Regions from separate parts of the Homo sapiens genome. Here region 2 is linked to region 1. The links come from fine-mapping of genetic effects on gene expression. A gene starts in region 1. The other region holds a variant in brackets. All regions are shown on one strand. Distances are between the middles of the regions. Region 1 holds the start of LRRC8A (leucine rich repeat containing 8 VRAC subunit A). Region 2 overlaps LRRC8A (leucine rich repeat containing 8 VRAC subunit A).

Region 1 (9,665 bases):
TCAAGCTGTTTCCCCTGCCTGGCATACCCTCCAATCCAAAATCCCTAGCAGGGCCTAGCCCCACCTGTACCTCCTCTCTGAAGCTTCTGTGTCCACCCAGGCCCTTTGCTGAACTCAGAAAGCACCTACCTGTGCCTGACCCTCTCCCCCAACCCCATGCTAAATTCTCTAATCCTCATCACAGCTGATTAGGATGGTATTATTTACTCTATTTTGCTCAAAAGGAGAACAAGGAAAACTCACTCAGCCTAGAGAGCTCCAGCTGTGATTCAAACCCTGGTTTGCCTATTTCCAAAGTCCAAATTCTGTCCCGTGAAATCTCCTCTCAGGCGGGTGCTAGGGCTGACAGGAGACCACCAGCCCCTTGGGGACAGGAGCCATGTCTTGTCCAACTTCACCTTGCATGGCTGCTTACAAGGGCAGGCGAGGTGACCATGCCTTCCCAGGGTGGCCCCACGTCACATCACTCAAGTCAATTATGACATTCGGTTTTGGAGCTTCTCAATAGGGGCACACTTAGAATTTGAGATGAGTCAGTTCTTCACTGGGGAGAGCTATCTGGAGCCTTGAAGGATGTTTAGCATCCCTGGGCTTAAAATGCCAGGAGACTCCCAGTTACTGAGACAACACACATCGTGGCACCTCTAGAGAAAGGGTACAGAACTGGGGATACCATGCCCAGGAAGACCAGTCTAGTGCATGAATAACCACAGAAGACCAAACCTTGGACTTGGATCAAATAGTCCCAGCTCCACCATAAACTAGCTATGGGACCTTGGTCATGCCAGGCCGCAGCCTCTTGGGGGCTCAGCTTCCTCATCTGTACAATGAAGGTGACAAGAATCCACAGAGAATATACTGTGGGTCCTGGCTCACAGCCACTTGTCAATGACAACAAGCTATTAACTTTTTTTTTTTTTTGAGACAGTCTTGCTCTATCGCCCAGGCTGGAGTGCAGTGGCACAATCTCGGCTCACTGCAACCTCTGCCTCCCAGTTTCAAGCGATTCTTGTACCTCAGCCTCCAGAGTAGCTGGGACCACAGGCACGTGCCACCACACCCAGCTAATTTTTGTATTTTTGATAGAGATGGGGTTTTACCACGTTGCCCAGGTTGGTCTCGAACTCCTGAGCTCAAGCGATAGTCCCACCTCAGCCTTCCAAATTACTGGGATTATAGGCATGAACCACCACACCCAGTCAACAAGCTATTAACATTTAAACCTACCAGGCTTTCCATAAAATTAGTAACCAAGCAAAATGAAAAATCTCTTATTATATAATGAATCCAAATTTTTTTTGATAGAAAAAAAACAGAATTCCCTGAAGACAAATGTTTGGTGACAATTTGTTGAGCCAATGTTTTCCTGGAGAGAACAGCCTGTCTGAGGAGATCTAACAATTGCGTCACTCAGACACAGTCCCCCTGGGCTTAGGAATTGGCAGAGGAGAGAGAAATGACTTCTGGAGTCCAGACGGCAGGTTTACAGGCTGGAGGGGTTGGTGGAAGACCTGAGTGACACAAACAGTAGGTATCTCACCACTTATTCCTCCTGGCACAGGACCCAGATTCAAAAACCACAATCTCACTCCCATACATTAAAGGAACACACAACAGATAGGCAGATAGCCTCGCGGGAGCCTTGGAGGAGGTGGCATCAGCTTTACAGGTGGGGAAACTGAGGCTTAGAGAGGGGAAATGACTTACTCGAAGTCCCAGAAAAGCACCAGGAGGCCCCCAGCTGCAAGCTGGGGAATGAGGGCATAGGATGAGCATTTTAAAAATTATGCCGGGAGGCCGGGCGCGGTGGCTCACGCCTGTAATCCCAGCACTTTGGGAGGCCGAGGTGGGCGGATCACAAGGTCAGGAGATAGAGACCATCCTGGCTAACACGGTGAAACCCCGTCTCTACTAAAAATACAAAAAATTAGCCAGGCGTGGTGGCGGGTGCCTGTAGTCCCAGCTACTTGGGAGGCTGAGGCAGGAGAATGGAGTGAACCCGGGAGGTGGAGCTTGCAGTGAGCCGAGATTGCACCACTGCACTCCAGCCTGGGCGACAGAGTGAGACTCCGTCTCAAAAAAAAAAAAAGGAATTATGCAGGGAACTGGCAGTGCCATCCAGGAGTGGGATGTGGCCCCAGGTCTGTTCTGGCAGGAGTTACAGTGACTGCCTCATGGCTGTGAAGGCTCCTGCATTCCTTTATCGCCCCCACCTGGATTATAAAATCAGGCGCCCTACTCTTTGGAGCTTGGAGAGGTTAGTGTGGCGTTCTGGTGGTTGGCACCTAATGGAGGCATTCTCCGGGAGGAAAGATTCCTGCTGAAGCCAGACTGAATGGGTCTAACTTGTATATTCTCCAATCCTGTTGGTCACCCTCAGTTTCTTAGTGGACACCAAGGCCAAGTCCAGGGTAGGAGCCCATCTCTCCTTGAGTCTCCAGCCTCATCATTTCTCCTTCTGGACATCCTAGTTTCCAGTCACATTGAAAGTCCCTTCCTTGGAGAAGCCCCTTCTGACTCCACCCAGGCTAAGCCACATGTCCCCTCCCAGGTGGTCCCAAGACCTGGGCTTCCGCCCTCAAAGTACTCAGCACGGGGGCGCTCAACTCCAAGGACAGGAACTATGTGCTTGACCTGTTCTCCACCAGATCCTCAGCCTCTGGCAGCTCACCCAGCACAGAGTAGGTCCCCCAGGCATTAGCACAGATGATCCTGGGAAGCTAAGGGAGAGGCCTGGGAGCCCAGCAGCCTTCCTAGGGAGGGAGGGAGACCTGTAGGAACCCCCTTCTGGCAACTTTCTTAATCTCTCTGTGCCTCACTTATCTGTAAAATGAGACTTATCTGCGTGTAAAATACAAAGTATAATACGTGGGAACATTCACTGTCTACAACTGTGGTTCTGGTTGTTCATTTTACAGGCGGGGACATGGAGGCCCACGGAGTACCTGGCAGGCCCACAGTCCACAGGTTGGAAAGAGGTGCCCAAGCCCTGGACTTTAAGCCTGGGCTCTGACCTTCAACGTTTGCTTTTCACACCACACATCATGTCAATAAATAGTTACTGGATGCCTGTTGTGTGCCAGGCCCCAAGACGGGTGTTGCGTGACTGACAACAGAAAAAGCATCTCAGTGGCGAGGGATAAGCTAGATCATGGGCATTAGTGTAAATCTCCCAGGGTTCAAATTCCAGCTTCTCCACTTCCTGGCTATGATTTTTTTTTTTTTTTAGACGGAGTCTTGCTCTGTTGCCCAGGCTGAAGTGCAGTGGCCCAATCTCAGCTCACTGCAAGCTCTGCCTCCCAGGTTCATGCCATTCTCCTGCCTCAGCCTCCCGAGTAGCTGGGACCACAGGCGCTCGCCACCACACCCGGCTAATTTTTTTGTATTTTTAGTAGAGACGGGGTTTCACCGTGTTAGCCAGGATGGTCTCGATCTACTGACCTCGTGATCCGCCCGCCTCAGCCTCCCAAAGTGCTGGGATTACAGGTGTGAACCACCGCGCCCGGCCCTGGCTATGATATTGCTAAGTTTCCTAACCTCTCTAAGGTTCTTTTCTCTTCTATTAAAAGGGAAAAATAAGACCTCCCAACAGAAGTGAAACTAGGCATTGGCTTAACACGTGATGGATGGGAGCCACGACTATCTTCATCATCTTATTTTTAATTATCTATCTGTGCACATGGTAGTAAATTTCTCGCCCTGGCCCAGGTACCCAAGACCCCAATTCTGTCGGAGACAACCGCAATTAACAACTTCTTGTGCATCTTATCAGACAGCTGGCGCGCACACCCGCAGATACGCCCACCCTCAGGCGTCCTTCTACGCAAAGATGGATAGCACCCATCAACGCTGTTTTTTCTTTTTTTAGACGGAGTCTCGCTCTGTCGCCCAGGCTGGAGTGCAGCGGCGCGATCTCGGCTCACTGCAAGCTCCACCTCCCGAGTTCATGCCATTCTCCTGCCTCAGCCTCCAGAGTAGCTGGGACTACAGGCGCCCACCACCACGCCCGGCTGATTTTTTTGTATTTTTAGTAGAGATGAGGTTTCACCAAGTTAGCCAGGATGGTCTCGATCTCCTGACCTCGTGATCCGCCCGCCTCGGCCTCCCAAAGTGCTGGGATTACAGACGTGAGCCACCGCAACCGGCCCAACGCTGTTTTTACTGTTGTTTCCTTTTTTAACCTAAGGTATCTTAGAAGTCACCCTACATTAGTGCATATTAAACATTGTTCGTCTTAATGGCTGCACAGTATTCCACTGTATGGATTATTTTTTAATTTGGTTGCCGGTACTGTTATCAGCCAGGGAATTTGCGAGGACCCAGCGGGATTTATGGAGCTGCAGAGTTGGAGTCTGGGGACCCAATTCCAACCCCAGATCTGTCCAGAATTCTGTTGTCTCGGGTATCATCTCCACCGGCGCGGTCGTGGGAGGGGGATTTGGGTGCAGACAGGACCAGCCCCAGTGTCCGAGCGAGAATCAGCGAGCAGCACGCGCAGTTGATTCCCGCGGGCGGCTCAATCATTCTGTGCAGCCACTCCGTTATACTTAGTAGCATCAAACTCATTAAGCACTCTAGCACAACCAAGCTCGGAACCGTTAGCCGACCCTCCCAGCCTCGGCACCTGACCTTGGGGAAGTGGCGCTCCGACACAGCTACTCACCCTCACCTGGGCCGCTTCACCCCTCGTTCCCAAGTACACCCCGTAGGTTGCAGCAGTCCCTGTCCCTTTAAGGGGGCCGAGCCCGGCTCCGCTACTTCCGCCCCGAAGCAGCAGGGCGCTAGCGCGGAGGCGAGAGCGGGAGAAAGCGCCGCTAGAATTCTCCTCATAAAGATGGCGACGCCCTGGCCGCCGCGTTCGCGCCCGGCGGTGACGTCACTTCCGGGGCGGAGGAGGCTGAGTGGTGCAGTGAGGGACAAACAAAAGGAGGCGCCGGAGCAGCGCTGCGGCCGGCGGCGGGACGGAGCGGCCGGGGCCTGGGGCTGCCTGCCGGGCGGCCGGGCGCGGCGAGCCCAGGTGAGTGGACGGGGTGGGGAAAGGGGCGCGAGCTGTCACCTCTCGAAACCCACTTACACACGCCCTCGGCCAGCTGCCCGGCCCGGGGCGCCCGGGGCATCTGGGGCTCTGTCTCCGGGCCGGCCCCCTGGGGACCTCCCGCGGTGTTCGGCCTACCTCTGGGCTCCCCAGTGCCCGGAGTCTCCGGGGCACCACCTTCTCGCCGGCTCCGCGGCGCGCGAGCCCCCTCCCAGGCACCCCTGTGCCTCCTTGTGCTTCAGAAACCAGGAGTTTCCGCCTCGGCTCCCCCATGTCCCCTTGTCATCCCCTGGGTCCCCCCAGATCCTCACCCCTCCACACACACTCTCCCGTTCCTAGAGGTTCCACCTCTGGGCTCTCTCCTTGCCATTTCTTTTTCAAAGATTTCCTTAGCTGTCTTCTCCTGAGTTCCTGGTCCCCTTCTCTTCCCTTGCACCCCTCCTTCCTATCGTTCCGATGGGGGCAGTGCCCTGACTTGGGGGCAGGATCCCCGGCTAGGCTCTTGGGGCCTTTCTGGGATGGGATATTTGGGAAGACCGGTCCGGAATCTAAGAACCCAGACCCTGTCCCAGTCCTGTGCATTCAGGTGGGCCCGAGGGCGAGGCGAGATCCAGTGAGGTCCAGGCCTGGTGCAGCCCTAGGTGAGCTGGATACCCAGCAAACTGAGCTCCCAGGCTGAAGGGGCATAGCTGGGGTCATGGAGTTCATGATGATTCTGCTGCTTTCGCTGACTGCTTCTTCCCCTTGATCTGGACCGGGGTGAACCGAGGTCTGCCGGTTCTCAGCTGTTGCGATTGTTGCCTTTTTTGGGAAGGAGGGATGGGTCGGGGGTTGTCTGGTAGCCGCCTCCTGATGGAGACTTGGCTGGAAGGGTGGGCGGTTCCTGGGTGAGCCACACTTCCACTGACTCCTCTTCCCCTGCCCTACCTCAGGAAGCCTTTTGAGAATGAGGTGTGGAGGGAGAGCACCTGGTAAGAGGAAGGGAACTGGGGGAGCCCGAAGTTCCCAAGGACCTCTTCCACCTCTTCTGTTAGTAGTACTCTTAACCCCTGCCAAACTGTATTCTGCCCTTTGGAGCAGACAACCTGGCAGACAGACAGGCTGTAAGAAGCGGGAGGAGATCGGCTGTTGCTGATACTTCCTGTGGAGGGGATGTGGGAGTGGGAGTTTGTTCAGAGAGACTGGGCAGTGCTGATTGCTCAGTCTCACTGGTGTTGCTTCCATGAAGGTCAAGTCTTCCTCTGGCTCATGAAGTGAGGCAAGGACAGATGACCTGTGCTGGAGGAGGCTGTTGTGGACATGCCAGGGATGAGTGACTGGGTGGCTGGTCTCTGCTTCCTTGTTTTCCTGGTCTCAGGGCTTTGGCATGGGGTCTGATGCCCTCTGCGTTCTAGGGACCATAGGGTACAGAGCAGGGGGTGCAGGGCCGGGCGTGGTGGCTCACGCCTGTAATCCCAGCACGTTGGGAGGCTGAAGCGGGCAGATCACGAGGTCAGGAGTTCGAGACCAGCCTGGCCAACATAGTGAAACCTTGTCTCTACTAAAAATACAAAAAATTAGCCAGGCATGGGGCTGCGCACCCGTAATCCCAGCTATTCGGGAGGCTGAGGCAGGAGAATTGCTTGAACCCAGCAGGCAGAGGTTGCAGTGAGCCAAGATCGCGCCATTGCACTCCAGCTTGGGCAAGAAGAGCAAAATTCCATCTCAAAAAAACAAAAAAAAAAACAGAGCGGGGGCACAGGAAATGTTCATGACTTCCCCCCAGAACTTGACTAGATGTGGTGGTTCTCCATCCCTTAGGCACACCCACCAGGAAGCCGTTTCCTTTGCAAACTCTTGAATGACCTTTCTGGACTGTAGGGAATCCTGGGGATCACTGCCGTGGGTCAGAACTCAGGGAAGTGGCCGGACCCTGGGTTGCTGCCTGGCTTGGCCTGGACCTTGCCTGTAGGAGTTGGAGGGAAATCAGCCTGGTTCCTGACTGCCTCGTCTTAGAGTAGAGCTGATTCCAGGTTTTCACATGGAGAAACTGAGGCACACACTGATGGGCCAAGACCTCTTGGAGATTCAGGTGGGATGGATGTGGGGCTCTTAGAGCCCAGCACAGTGTCTCTCCATGCCTTGACTCATTCATTCATTCATTCATTCATTCAGCCATTCTTTAGAAAGTGCCTGTCTTGGGCCTGGGATGGCTGGGAAAACATCCCTGGCCTCCTGAGAGCTGCAGTCTGGGAGGACAGGCAAACCAGAAGACACATAAGTTCTGATATACTGTGGCCACCATATTAATAGAAATATTACAGAGGCAGCCCAGAGGAAGAAGGAATTAGCTCTGGGTGGTTATGTAGGGGGTGGTCAGGGTATGCTTTCTGGAAGAGGAGGGACTAGAATAATTAGTGACAGGGAGTCCAGGGGCCCAAGTTCTGGACCTGGCTCTGCCATGGGCAGGTGATTGGACCACCCAGCCTCAGTGGGTGCCCCATCCTTGACAAGGAGGGTAGAGTGAGGTAGAGGTTGGCTTGGATGGCCTCCGTGCCTATATAGCTGTAGGTACTTTACTGCCTAGTCACCACCACCCCGTATGGAATTGCAGGGTTATTGACCTACCTCCCATGACGGCGGAGACCATCTTCCATGTCTGCCCTCCCAGCACAGGGCCTGGAACTTAGTCAATATAGTAAATACCCAGTGGTAGAAATGATGGAAAAACAGCCATCCCTCCTAGATCAGTCCAGGTGTCTTTGTCTACCCCCGCCCTCCTCCTTCCTGGGTAACTCCTGCTGATCCTTTGGCTCTCTCTGGTGGCTGGGCCACTCTCCCAGCTCCTGGCTCCCCGAAACCCGTGTCGTAGTGATCACAGCTTTCCCTACCCTGCCACTCCCATGCACAGTTCTGCACAGTGTCTGGCGCATATGGAGTAGATGCTCACCAGAGGCTGGTTGACTGTCGGAGATGATGGGTGGATTTGGTGTTTAAGTTGGAGTCTGGGCACTGGCTGGTCTCTGCCTGACCCAGCCACCCCACTGTGGCTCATCTCTTGCCACTTCCCCTCTCTGGCTCTGGATCTCGCCATGCCGAGCCCGCAAGCCTTCTCCAGATGCCATGTACTCTCTCCTCCAGGTAAACATGTGCTGTTCCTCCTGCCTGGAATGCTCTTTTTCCAGCTCCTACTCTTAGGAGTCAACTCAGACAACTCCTCCTCCAGAAAGCCTTCCCTGACCCCACTAGTCTGGGTCTAGTGCTTCTCCTGGCTCCCCCGCAGCAGAGCTCTGAGCTCTCAGACCGTCGCTACTGACTTGGCACCTCCTCAGTAGACCAGGTTCTGGAGGGAGGTGCTCTGTCAGAACCTCTTTTGTCTGCCAGGCGCGGTGGCTCATGCCTGTAATCCCAATACTTTGGGAGGCCGAGGCGGGCAGATCCCTGGAGGTTAGGAGTTTGAGAGCAGCCTGGCTAACATGGGGAAACGCTGTCTCTACTAAAAATACAAAAAATTAGCCAGGCTTGGTGGTGCGCACCTGAAATCCCATCTACTCGAGAGGCTGAGGCAGGAGAATCACTTGAATGCGGGAGGCGGAGGTTGCAGTGAACCGAGATTGCACCACTATACAAAAAAAACCTCTTTTGTCACCCCAGAGCCCAGCCAAGGGCCTGCTACCAAGCAGGCTCTCAGGAAGTGCTGGCGGTGTGGCAGGTAACTGCGACAGTCACACATGTGCCTGCTGACGGCAGCTCTCGCTTCCTTGTAGGGAGGCAGCGTCCATGGAGCAAAAGGAATGCCAGGATCCTGCACAGGCAGACGCGGGCCAGCCTCAGCACCGACAGCCGACGCGCAGATAGCAGAGCCATCCTTGGGGTAAGGACTGGGCCCCTCTCCTTCTCAGCCAGCTCCAGCTCCAGTCAAGTGCCCTTCCCAGCCTGGGGAGCAAAGGGTAGCATCTCCATCCCCACAGTCCTTTGCTTTTCTTGCTGTAGGTCCAGGGTAGAGTGGCAGACAGCAGAATTACTCTCTTCCTCCTTCTCCCGCTGAGTAATGTGTGCTTGCCGCACTCATTGAATGCTGAGTTGTTTCATTGCAAACCTCTGTTTTTTCTCCTTCACCCCAGATCTTATCAGTCTGGGTCTTGCTAATGCAGCCTCATGACCACATTTCCCAAAAAGCGTGGACCACGTTTCCCAAGTGTGTTCCATGAGACACCAGTTTCTTCGGTCACAGTGGTTTGATAATTCCAGGAAACAAAGACTTCTTGTTATCCTTGCTGCAGGACTTATCAGAGTCTTGAATCAGAGCCGTCATCAGGATTGAGCTGATCACGATAAGGGAGCTAGCGACTCGTGTTTCCCCACACTTATTTGATCGTGTAGACATCTTTGGGGACTGGGATTCCTTGGCCTGTGCTTTGGAAAACAGTTCCCAGAGGCAGGAGAGTCCCTTTAGAACATTTGGAGGATTAAATATGTTGACATAGAGCAGGCAGTTGGCAGAGTGCATGTCCTAGAAGGTGGTCCCGAGTCATAGCTGGTGTGTGTATAGACGGCTGTGTAATTTGCCAGACATACTCAGGTCGGTGATCTCATTTGACCATTTGAGGATGCTTAGGCAGTGGCCATTATCTCCAGTTTACAGATGTGG
Region 2 (9,665 bases), 26 kb after region 1:
TGATGTCACCTTCCTGAGCCTTAGCACCCCCATCTCTGGGATGGGGCTATAGAGGCCTGGCCTCTTGGGCATCAAGGATGACCCTAGGAGGGCCTGCAGGGGAGGCCTGCCTGGTGCCTGGCACACTTCCAGGCCCTCAGCACTGGCTGTGGCCATCATCACCCTTGCTGAGTGCCCCATTCCACCTGCCTCACATGGGGTCCTGCTCTGCCTTCCTCCTGTCCTCCCCATCCAGCATAGCCTAGAAAGATTGGGGCTGGGGAGTGTTTGGCATTTGCAGAGAGGTGCTGTTCTTTTTTTTTTTTTTTTTTGAGTCGGCACCTCGCTCTGTCACCCAGGCTGGAGTGCAGTGGCGTGATCTCGGCTCACTGCAAGCTCCACTTCCCGGGTTCACGCCATTCTCCTGCCTCAGCCTTCCAAGCAGCTGGGACTACAGGCGCCTGCCACTATGCCCGGCTAATTTTTTTGTATTTTTAGTAGAGACGGAGTTTCACCTTGTTAGCCAGGATGGTCTCGATCTCCTGACCTCGTGATCCGCCCGCCTTGGCCTCCCAAAGTGCTGGGATTACAGGCGTGAGCCTCTGTGCCTGGCCCGAGAAGTGCTGTTCTTAAAGAGTTCCTACCTAGGCCGGGCACGGTGGCTCACGCCTGTAATCCCAGAACTTTGGGAGGCCAAGGCAGGTGGATTGGTTGAGGCCAGGAATTCAAGACCAGCCCGGCCAACATGGCAAAACACCGTCTCTACTAAAAATACAAAAATTAGCTGGATGTGGTGGCGGGCGTCTGTAATCCCAGCCACTTGGGAGATTGAAACATGAGAATCACTTAAACCCAGGAGGCAGAGGTTGCAGTGAGTCAGGATCATGCCACTGCACCCCAGCCTGGGTGACAGAGTGAGACTGTCTCAAAAAGGGAAAAAAAAAAAGTTTGTTACTATTCTGGTTATTAACATTATCAGTAATCAAAGAAAGGTGGCCCATCATCTGGGCACCCCTGTTCCTCTCCTAAGAGAGACAGACACATTTGACACAGGCATTTAAAACTTGGTTTAGATAAAAATCTAGGTTCTGGGTTACAGTGTAAAGTAAAAATTGAATGTAAAGTAAAAGCACAATTTGGCCAGGCATGGTGACTCACACCTATAATCCCAGCACTGTGGGAGGCCGTGGCAGGTGGATCACCTCAGGTCAGGAGTTCGAGACCAGCCTGGCCAACGTGGCGAAATTCCGTTTCTACTAAAAATACAAAAATTAGCTGGGCGTGGTAGCGTGTGCCTGTAATCCAGCTGCTTGGGAGGCAGAGGCAGGAGAATCATGTGAACCCAGGAGGCGGAGGCTGTGGTGAGCTGAGATTGTGCCACTGCACTCCAGCCTGGGTGACAGAGCAATACTCTGTCTCTAAATAAATAAATAAATAAAAGCACAATTTATTCTAATACACAGAAAGGGCTGGGTGCAGTGCCTCACTCCTGTAATGCCAACACTTTGGGAGGCTAAGGCCAGAGGATTGCTTGAGGCCAGGAGTTTGAAACCAACTTGGCCAACATAGTGAGATCCTGTCTCTACAAAAAATTTTAAAAATTAGCCGGGCATGGGCCAGGTATGGTGGTTCACACCTGTAATCCCAGTACTTTGGGAGGCCAAGGCGGGCGGATCACAAGGTCAGGAGAACGAGACCATCCTGGCTAACACGGTGAAACCCCGTCTCTACTAAAAATACAAAAAAAAATTAGCCGGGTGTGGTGGGCGGGTGCCTGTAGTCCCAGCTACTTGGAAGGCTGAGGCAGGAGAATGGCGTGAATCTGGGAGGCGGAGCTTGCAGTGAGCCAAGATCGCACCACTGCACTCCAGCCTAGGCAACAGAGCGAGACTCCGTCTCAAAAAAAAAAAAAAAAAAAAAAAAAATTAGCCAGGCATGGTGGCACACACCTGTAGCCCCAGCTACCTGGGGGAGGCTAAGGTAGGAGGATTGCTTGACCAGGAGGTTGAGGCTGCAGTGAGCCATGATCACGCCACCGCACTCTAGTTTGGGCAACAGAGCAAGATCCAATCTCTTACAAGAAAAATTATAAAATTATAAAATACACAGAAAGGACTGGAAGGTTATTATTCAGTGAAAAGTTAACAGTGTGTAACCCTGGTGGGGATTGTAAAGCGGATTCTTCTTTTTTTGCTGCTACGCTTTTTTACAATTTTCCGTATGTTCTCCAGGGAACATCTAGTACCTTATCCCTCCGTGACAGCCATACGTCTTTCATTGTAAGAGCAACCAGCCTTGGCCGTGTGACCACGAATGGCCACAGAGAGGCATTCTCACAGAGATCTTGCTGCGTGCCTCCTGTGTAGCACAGTCTGGGTTTCCTAATGTGGCTTCTCAGCCAGTGTTTCCCAAGCTTGGCCAATCATTAGAGTCACCAAAGTTATGTGTTAAAAATCAGGTTCCCAGCCAGGCACGGTGGCTCACTCCTGTAATCCCAGCACTTTGGGAGGCTGAGACGGGCAGATCAGGAGGTAAAGGGATCGAGACCATCCTGGTCAACATCGTGAAACCTTGTCTCTACTAAAAAACACAAAAATTACCTGGGCATGGTGGTGCAGGCCTGTAGTCCCAGCTACTCGGGAGGCTGAGGCAGGAGAATCACTTGAACCCTGGAGGCAGAGGTTGCAGTGAGCCGAAATGATGCCACTGCACTCCAGCCTGGCGACAGAGCAAGACTCCGTCTCAAAAAAAAAAGAAAAATCAGATTTCCAGCTTCTCGCCATAGTAGTCAAACTAGACTCTCTCTGGGAGAGCCTGCTGTTGCTGCTGTTTTTAATTCCTTTATACACACGCAACCAGAGATGATTTTACATTAAGGCCTCTCTGTGATCACCCAGTTTGTGAGGGAGGAGAGCCTTATTCTTAATCCCCTCTCTTGAGGCCGCTCCCCTAGGAGCCTGTCATTAAGACCCACTATGTGACCTTTGGTCTTCCGAGTGTTCCCAGAATCTTGTACACACATAACTATACACACATGTGGAATTTTGTTGTTGAAGCAGGGTCTCTGTCACCCAGGCTGGAGTACAGCGACGGGGTCATAGCTCACTGCAGCTTCAACCTCCTGGACTCAAGCGATCCTCCCACTTCATCCTCCCAAAATGCTGGGATTACAGGCTAGGATTACAGGCGTGAGCCACCA[TGC/T]CAGCCCCCATGTGGAATTTTTTTTTTTTTTTTTTTTTTTGAGTTGGAGTTTCACTCTTGTCGCCCAGGCTGGAGTGCAATGGCACAATCTCAGCTCACTGCAACCTCCACCTCCCGGGTTCAAGTGATTCTCCTGTCTCAGCCTCCCGAATAGCTGGGATTACAGGCACCCGCCACTACGCCAGGCTAATTTTTGTATTTTTAGTAGAGACCGAGTTTCACCATGTTGGCCAGGCTGGTCTTGAACTTCTGACTTCAGGTGATCCACCCACCTCGGCCTCCCAAAGTGCTGGGATTACAGACGTGAACCACGTGGAATTTTTAAACCTTGCTCTTTGTTTTATGGAAGTGAGTTCATGTTGTGCCCCCTCTGCATGTTGCTTTCTTTCCTCATATTTTGCGGGAATCCCTCCAGCCCTTTGCTGCAGCTTTACAGCAGCTGGTTCCCAGTGAACTGGGAGTTTTAAATGTGTCCCTCTGGTCAATCTGTTCATTAAATAGGTGGACTTTAGAAAGGAGTTCCCGATTGCTCTTACTGGAATGCAAGGGATGGAGCAGAGAACCCTGAGGCTGCACTGGGGATCTGTCTAATCTCACTGTGCTCAGTCTTCCTGTGTATTAAATGGGGAGCCTGCCTGCCTCCCCCAGGGTGGTTTCCCAGCCAAGTGGCCACATGCTTTCTGCAGAAGGGCTGATAAGTGGGCTGCCCCGTGGAGTAGGCAGGCTTTGGCTCCCAGCTAGATTTGAGGTGGAATTTTGGACAATGGAAGAATTTTCATTGTCTTCTTCCCCTGACCCCTGGTCCTAGGAAAGCCAGGCCACCCTGTGCTAACCCCCCTCCTATGGCTCCCTTTTAGGTTGAACCATGATTCCGGTGACAGAGCTCCGCTACTTTGCGGACACGCAGCCAGCATACCGGATCCTGAAGCCGTGGTGGGATGTGTTCACAGACTACATCTCTATCGTCATGCTGATGATTGCCGTCTTCGGGGGGACGCTGCAGGTCACCCAAGACAAGATGATCTGCCTGCCTTGTAAGTGGGTCACCAAGGACTCCTGCAATGATTCGTTCCGGGGCTGGGCAGCCCCTGGCCCGGAGCCCACCTACCCCAACTCCACCATTCTGCCGACCCCTGACACGGGCCCCACAGGCATCAAGTATGACCTGGACCGGCACCAGTACAACTACGTGGACGCTGTGTGCTATGAGAACCGACTGCACTGGTTTGCCAAGTACTTCCCCTACCTGGTGCTTCTGCACACGCTCATCTTCCTGGCCTGCAGCAACTTCTGGTTCAAATTCCCGCGCACCAGCTCGAAGCTGGAGCACTTTGTGTCTATCCTGCTGAAGTGCTTCGACTCGCCCTGGACCACGAGGGCCCTGTCGGAGACAGTGGTGGAGGAGAGCGACCCCAAGCCGGCCTTCAGCAAGATGAATGGGTCCATGGACAAAAAGTCATCGACCGTCAGTGAGGACGTGGAGGCCACCGTGCCCATGCTGCAGCGGACCAAGTCACGGATCGAGCAGGGTATCGTGGACCGCTCAGAGACGGGCGTGCTGGACAAGAAGGAGGGGGAGCAAGCCAAGGCGCTGTTTGAGAAGGTGAAGAAGTTCCGGACCCATGTGGAGGAGGGGGACATTGTGTACCGCCTCTACATGCGGCAGACCATCATCAAGGTGATCAAGTTCATCCTCATCATCTGCTACACCGTCTACTACGTGCACAACATCAAGTTCGACGTGGACTGCACCGTGGACATTGAGAGCCTGACGGGCTACCGCACCTACCGCTGTGCCCACCCCCTGGCCACACTCTTCAAGATCCTGGCGTCCTTCTACATCAGCCTAGTCATCTTCTACGGCCTCATCTGCATGTATACACTGTGGTGGATGCTACGGCGCTCCCTCAAGAAGTACTCGTTTGAGTCGATCCGTGAGGAGAGCAGCTACAGCGACATCCCCGACGTCAAGAACGACTTCGCCTTCATGCTGCACCTCATTGACCAATACGACCCGCTCTACTCCAAGCGCTTCGCCGTCTTCCTGTCGGAGGTGAGTGAGAACAAGCTGCGGCAGCTGAACCTCAACAACGAGTGGACGCTGGACAAGCTCCGGCAGCGGCTCACCAAGAACGCGCAGGACAAGCTGGAGCTGCACCTGTTCATGCTCAGTGGCATCCCTGACACTGTGTTTGACCTGGTGGAGCTGGAGGTCCTCAAGCTGGAGCTGATCCCCGACGTGACCATCCCGCCCAGCATTGCCCAGCTCACGGGCCTCAAGGAGCTGTGGCTCTACCACACAGCGGCCAAGATTGAAGCGCCCGCGCTGGCCTTCCTGCGTGAGAACCTGCGGGCGCTGCACATCAAGTTCACCGACATCAAGGAGATCCCGCTGTGGATCTATAGCCTGAAGACACTGGAGGAGCTGCACCTGACGGGCAACCTGAGCGCGGAGAACAACCGCTACATCGTCATCGACGGGCTGCGGGAGCTCAAACGCCTCAAGGTGCTGCGGCTCAAGAGCAACCTAAGCAAGCTGCCACAGGTGGTCACAGATGTGGGCGTGCACCTGCAGAAGCTGTCCATCAACAATGAGGGCACCAAGCTCATCGTCCTCAACAGCCTCAAGAAGATGGCGAACCTGACTGAGCTGGAGCTGATCCGCTGTGACCTGGAGCGCATCCCCCACTCCATCTTCAGCCTCCACAACCTGCAGGAGATTGACCTCAAGGACAACAACCTCAAGACCATCGAGGAGATCATCAGCTTCCAGCACCTGCACCGCCTCACCTGCCTTAAGCTGTGGTACAACCACATCGCCTACATCCCCATCCAGATCGGCAACCTCACCAACCTGGAGCGCCTCTACCTGAACCGCAACAAGATCGAGAAGATCCCCACCCAGCTCTTCTACTGCCGCAAGCTGCGCTACCTGGACCTCAGCCACAACAACCTGACCTTCCTCCCTGCCGACATCGGCCTCCTGCAGAACCTCCAGAACCTAGCCATCACGGCCAACCGGGTGAGTGGCCCGGCCACAGCTCTGCGTGTGGGCTGGCGGGTGGCCTGGCCAGGGCTTGTGGTGGGGCACTCGGCAGGCTCAGTGTCCTGGGACCGTCGATGCCCCTGAGTGTGGAGTCCTCACCTGGGGTTTACAGAACCATCCAGGATAGAAGCTCTGTTCAAGAGACAGACTCCTTGGGCCCCATCCCAGGCCTGCTGAATCCGAATCTCTGGGCCCCGGGCCTGTCTTTGCTCCAAAATGTTGCAGTTCTCCTGCCTGGAGAGACTGCATGGCCAGGCAAGGTCTGTCCCCCAAGGTGACCTTGAGCCGGGTTCCTCTTCAGCAGGGATGTGCTTGGGCAGGAGGTCCAAACCCGGGGGTTCTCTCGCAAAGCCGGGTGGTGGGAGTCAAGACTTAGCCTGGAGTTTGTGTCTTCCTCAGCTTGTTCCCAGTCGGACTTGGAGGCAAGGAGCCAATCCGGGTCCACCCAGGACAGAAACTGTGTGGGTGGCCAGTGCTGGCTGAGGGGAAGCCTTGGATGGTCTCTGCAGCTCCCACACACCTTTCTCCACTGCATTTGGTGGTGTCAGAGGCAGAGTTGGGCCTAGATGGGGCTAGTTTGTTTCTGCCTGCCCTTCTGAAAAGGAAATTGTGCAAATCATTGTCACTGGGAGTTTGGGAGGCCACACCTTCGACATACTTTCAAGACTGTTGGTGGTCTGTGGGTGCCAGTCTCTTACCTGGCTGGGGAAGCCCCCATCCAAGGGCCCCTTGGTGGAGGCAGGCAGTGTGGATGGAGGGCTGGGTACTCCTGTGGCTCTGTGGTCTGGCCTCCGAAATGGAAACAAAGCCACTGCCATTGTGGGGAACGTCCCTCTTCCACCCGTCCTGGGGACCTGCAGGTTTTCCTGGGCCTCACATCCAGGTGGAGATTCCTGTAGTGAGACATGTGGTGGAGGAAGCCTGAGGCCAGGCGCTGGGAGACAAGGGAGAGCCCAGCCAGCCACCCTTCTGCCCCCGACACAGCAGCAGCTGTCGTGCCGGGCCCCTGTGAACTTCACTAGGGATGCCACCAGGTTCAGGAGGCTGAAGAAGAGACTCGGAGTTGACCAGGCCCAGTGGGTCAAACCTGTAATCCGAGCACTTAGGGAAGCCAAGGTGGGGCGGTCACTTGAGCTCAGGAGTTCGAGACCAGCCTGGGCAACATAGGGAAACCCCATCTCTACCAAAAATACAGAAATGATCCAGGCATGGTGGCATGTGCCTGTAGTCCCAGCTATTTGGGAGGCTGAGGCAGGATCGCTTCAGCCTAGGAGTTCAAGACTGCAGTGAGCTATGGTTGTACCACTGTACTTCAGCCTGGGCAATAGAGTGAGACCCAGTCTCAAAGTAAAATGAAGAGCCCTGGAGCCGGCCATTGAAACATGGGGTTTATTTGGGGGAACTTACTTACAGGGTGGTCCAGCAGCAGTGAGCCAAATAGGAAAACCACTCCTGCTTATAAAAAGCGTGCAGCTCATAGAGCATTTTCACTAAGCACCCTCCCCTCTGCAGCCTCCGTGTGGCAACCCGCGTTTCTTAGTTCGGTTGTTGCTGTTGGGTGCATCTGCCATGCAGCAGCCCCACGGTGCAGTCCCTGTTGGTTTCGTGGGCACCTGCTCTGTGTTCGCCCTGTGCCAGGCATGATGCACCTGTCCTCCTTCCACCAACCTGCTGAGTCCTCCCAACAGGGTCTGTCTATAGCATCCTCAGGCACGGAGGGAGGTGGCCCCTGGAATGCCCGGTCTGTCTATAGTATCCTCAGGCACGGAGGGAGGTGGCCCCTGGAATGCCCTGTCTGTCCTCCTGGGCCCCAGGACAGGACACACCTTCTCCAGCATCACTCAGACTAGATGCTTCAGGCCCTCCAGATGCCTGCTGGCTTGGAAGCCTTCCTCCCCTCTTCCCCAGGGCTCCCTTACTGCAGAGCAACCTGCAACCCACATGTATCAGGGATTTTGACAAGTCCTTATCTCCGGCCACCCCATATTATGACTTGAGCACAGTGGGAGAGTGGACCAGGGCAGGGTTTTCTCTTGTAGTTTCGGGACAGGCCCACTGAATAGGAAAACTGGAGTCCCCTGGGGAGAAGCCACATTTGGGAAGCACAGAACAAACCCAGCCCTTCTTTAATCTGTGGAGGGGGAGACCCTGTGGCTTCCCCATAGCACAGTGCTGCCCTTGATAAGCTGGGACTTCCTCACAGCTCCTGCCATTCCTGCCCTGTCCCGGGTGCTGTGCTGGGGCTGTCCTCCTGGTTGGGGGAGGGTTCAAGCCTCCAGCCTGGCTCCCCATCCTGTCCCCCACCCCCAGCTCCTCCCGCCAAGCTTGCCTGTTAGTGTCATGCCTGCTGGCTGAGGTCACCCCTCAGGAAAGGAGCTGGCGGCAAGCACGCTGTCCCAGAGGAAGGAGACCCTCTGGACACCCTGTTTAGCACATGGCTTAATCACATCCTGTCCCCACCCCCTGGAACACCAGAGCCTTAATAGGGAAAACAGTTCACTTGGGCCAACCCCAGGCAGGCCCCTCATTCTGAGTGGGAGGCCTGAGCCCCTCTTCCTCCTCACTCGGGCTTGATGGCTCCTTCTCAGCCACCTTGGCCAGTGGTGACCAGGAGGGGTGGGCGTGGCCTGCCCACGCCCTTGCGTGCTGTTTCTCCAGATTTATACTCTTGCTAATGAAAGCCTTGACAAGACAGTATTCATTCGTTCACTCGTTTACTGATGTGTGCAAATTGTTATGTTTTGTTTGTTTGTTTTTTTGGTAGAGACAGGGTCTCACTGTGTTTTCTAGGCTGGTCTTTAAACTCCTGGCCTCAAAGCCTCCCACCTTGGCCGCCCAAAGTGCTGGTATTACAGGCATGAGCCACTTCGCCTGGCCTTTGTGCAGATGTTTTTTGAGCACTTCTAGAATCCAGCTATGGAGCAAGGCGCCGGGGACATGGGGATGAAGAAGGCCAAGTAACGAGGCAGTTAGCACAGTGCGTAGGCGCTCTGCTGGAGCACCAGGTCCCTGGGAACACAGAGGAACAGGCCCCTGAAGAACGAGGAGGAGGAAGCCAGGTGGAGGGGAAAGGGACAGTCCAGGAGGTTCTGGTGGGGAGGAGCAGTGAGATGGGCTGCCCAGGAATGTGGGCATCCTGGAGAGCAGAGGTGGGGCTATGGGGGGGGGTGTGGATGGCAGGGGGGTCCTGTCCTACACCTCAGTTTCAATTGTCTCTTCATTTGTTTAACAGCCGATCCCTTGCCAGCCCATAGGCTCTGATGACTAAGACCTAGCTCTTTTGTTCAAGCAAGTGTTTACCGAATTCCTAGTGATTGAGTGGGTGAAGGAATGAGCTGACTTGCAGCGTGAGGTTCCTCTTGCGGTAGTGTGTGGGGTGGGGTGAGTGAGAGGTGGGAGGTGGAAGAGAGCTGTTAAGAGACCACGATTAGCCATCAGG

Evidence for each region. PIP is the estimated chance that this variant, and not a neighbour inherited with it, causes the effect.
Region 2: its variant is the best candidate, but not a certain one, in a credible set for the expression of LRRC8A in tibial nerve (GTEx, PIP 0.50).

The regions. Positions count from the first base shown.
Region 1 is chr9:128,877,234-128,886,898 of GRCh38, forward strand. LRRC8A (leucine rich repeat containing 8 VRAC subunit A) reads left to right here and starts at 4,900. Exons shown (of 4, transcript NM_019594.4): 1 at 4,900-5,017; 2 at 8,782-8,888. KYAT1-SPOUT1 (KYAT1-SPOUT1 readthrough) reads right to left here and starts at 4,717. Exons shown (of 25, transcript NR_182311.1): 1 at 4,664-4,717. KYAT1 (kynurenine aminotransferase 1) reads right to left here and starts at 4,717. Exons shown (of 13, transcript NM_004059.5): 1 at 4,664-4,717. RefSeq lists enhancers at 4,787-4,936, 8,213-8,975 and a silencer at 4,967-5,246.
Region 2 is chr9:128,903,120-128,912,784 of GRCh38, forward strand. It overlaps LRRC8A (leucine rich repeat containing 8 VRAC subunit A), which reads left to right. Exons shown (of 4, transcript NM_019594.4): 3 at 4,038-6,202. The coding sequence starts at 4,046. It overlaps LOC101929291 (a long non-coding RNA gene), which reads right to left. Exons shown (of 4, transcript XR_007061808.1): 3 at 6,925-7,119; 4 at 6,196-6,821. Among named protein-coding and RNA genes, the nearest start is that of PHYHD1, 13 kb to the right of the region's middle. RefSeq lists a silencer at 622-794 and an enhancer at 6,623-7,406. The variant TGC/T (reference allele first, on the strand shown) is at 3,179.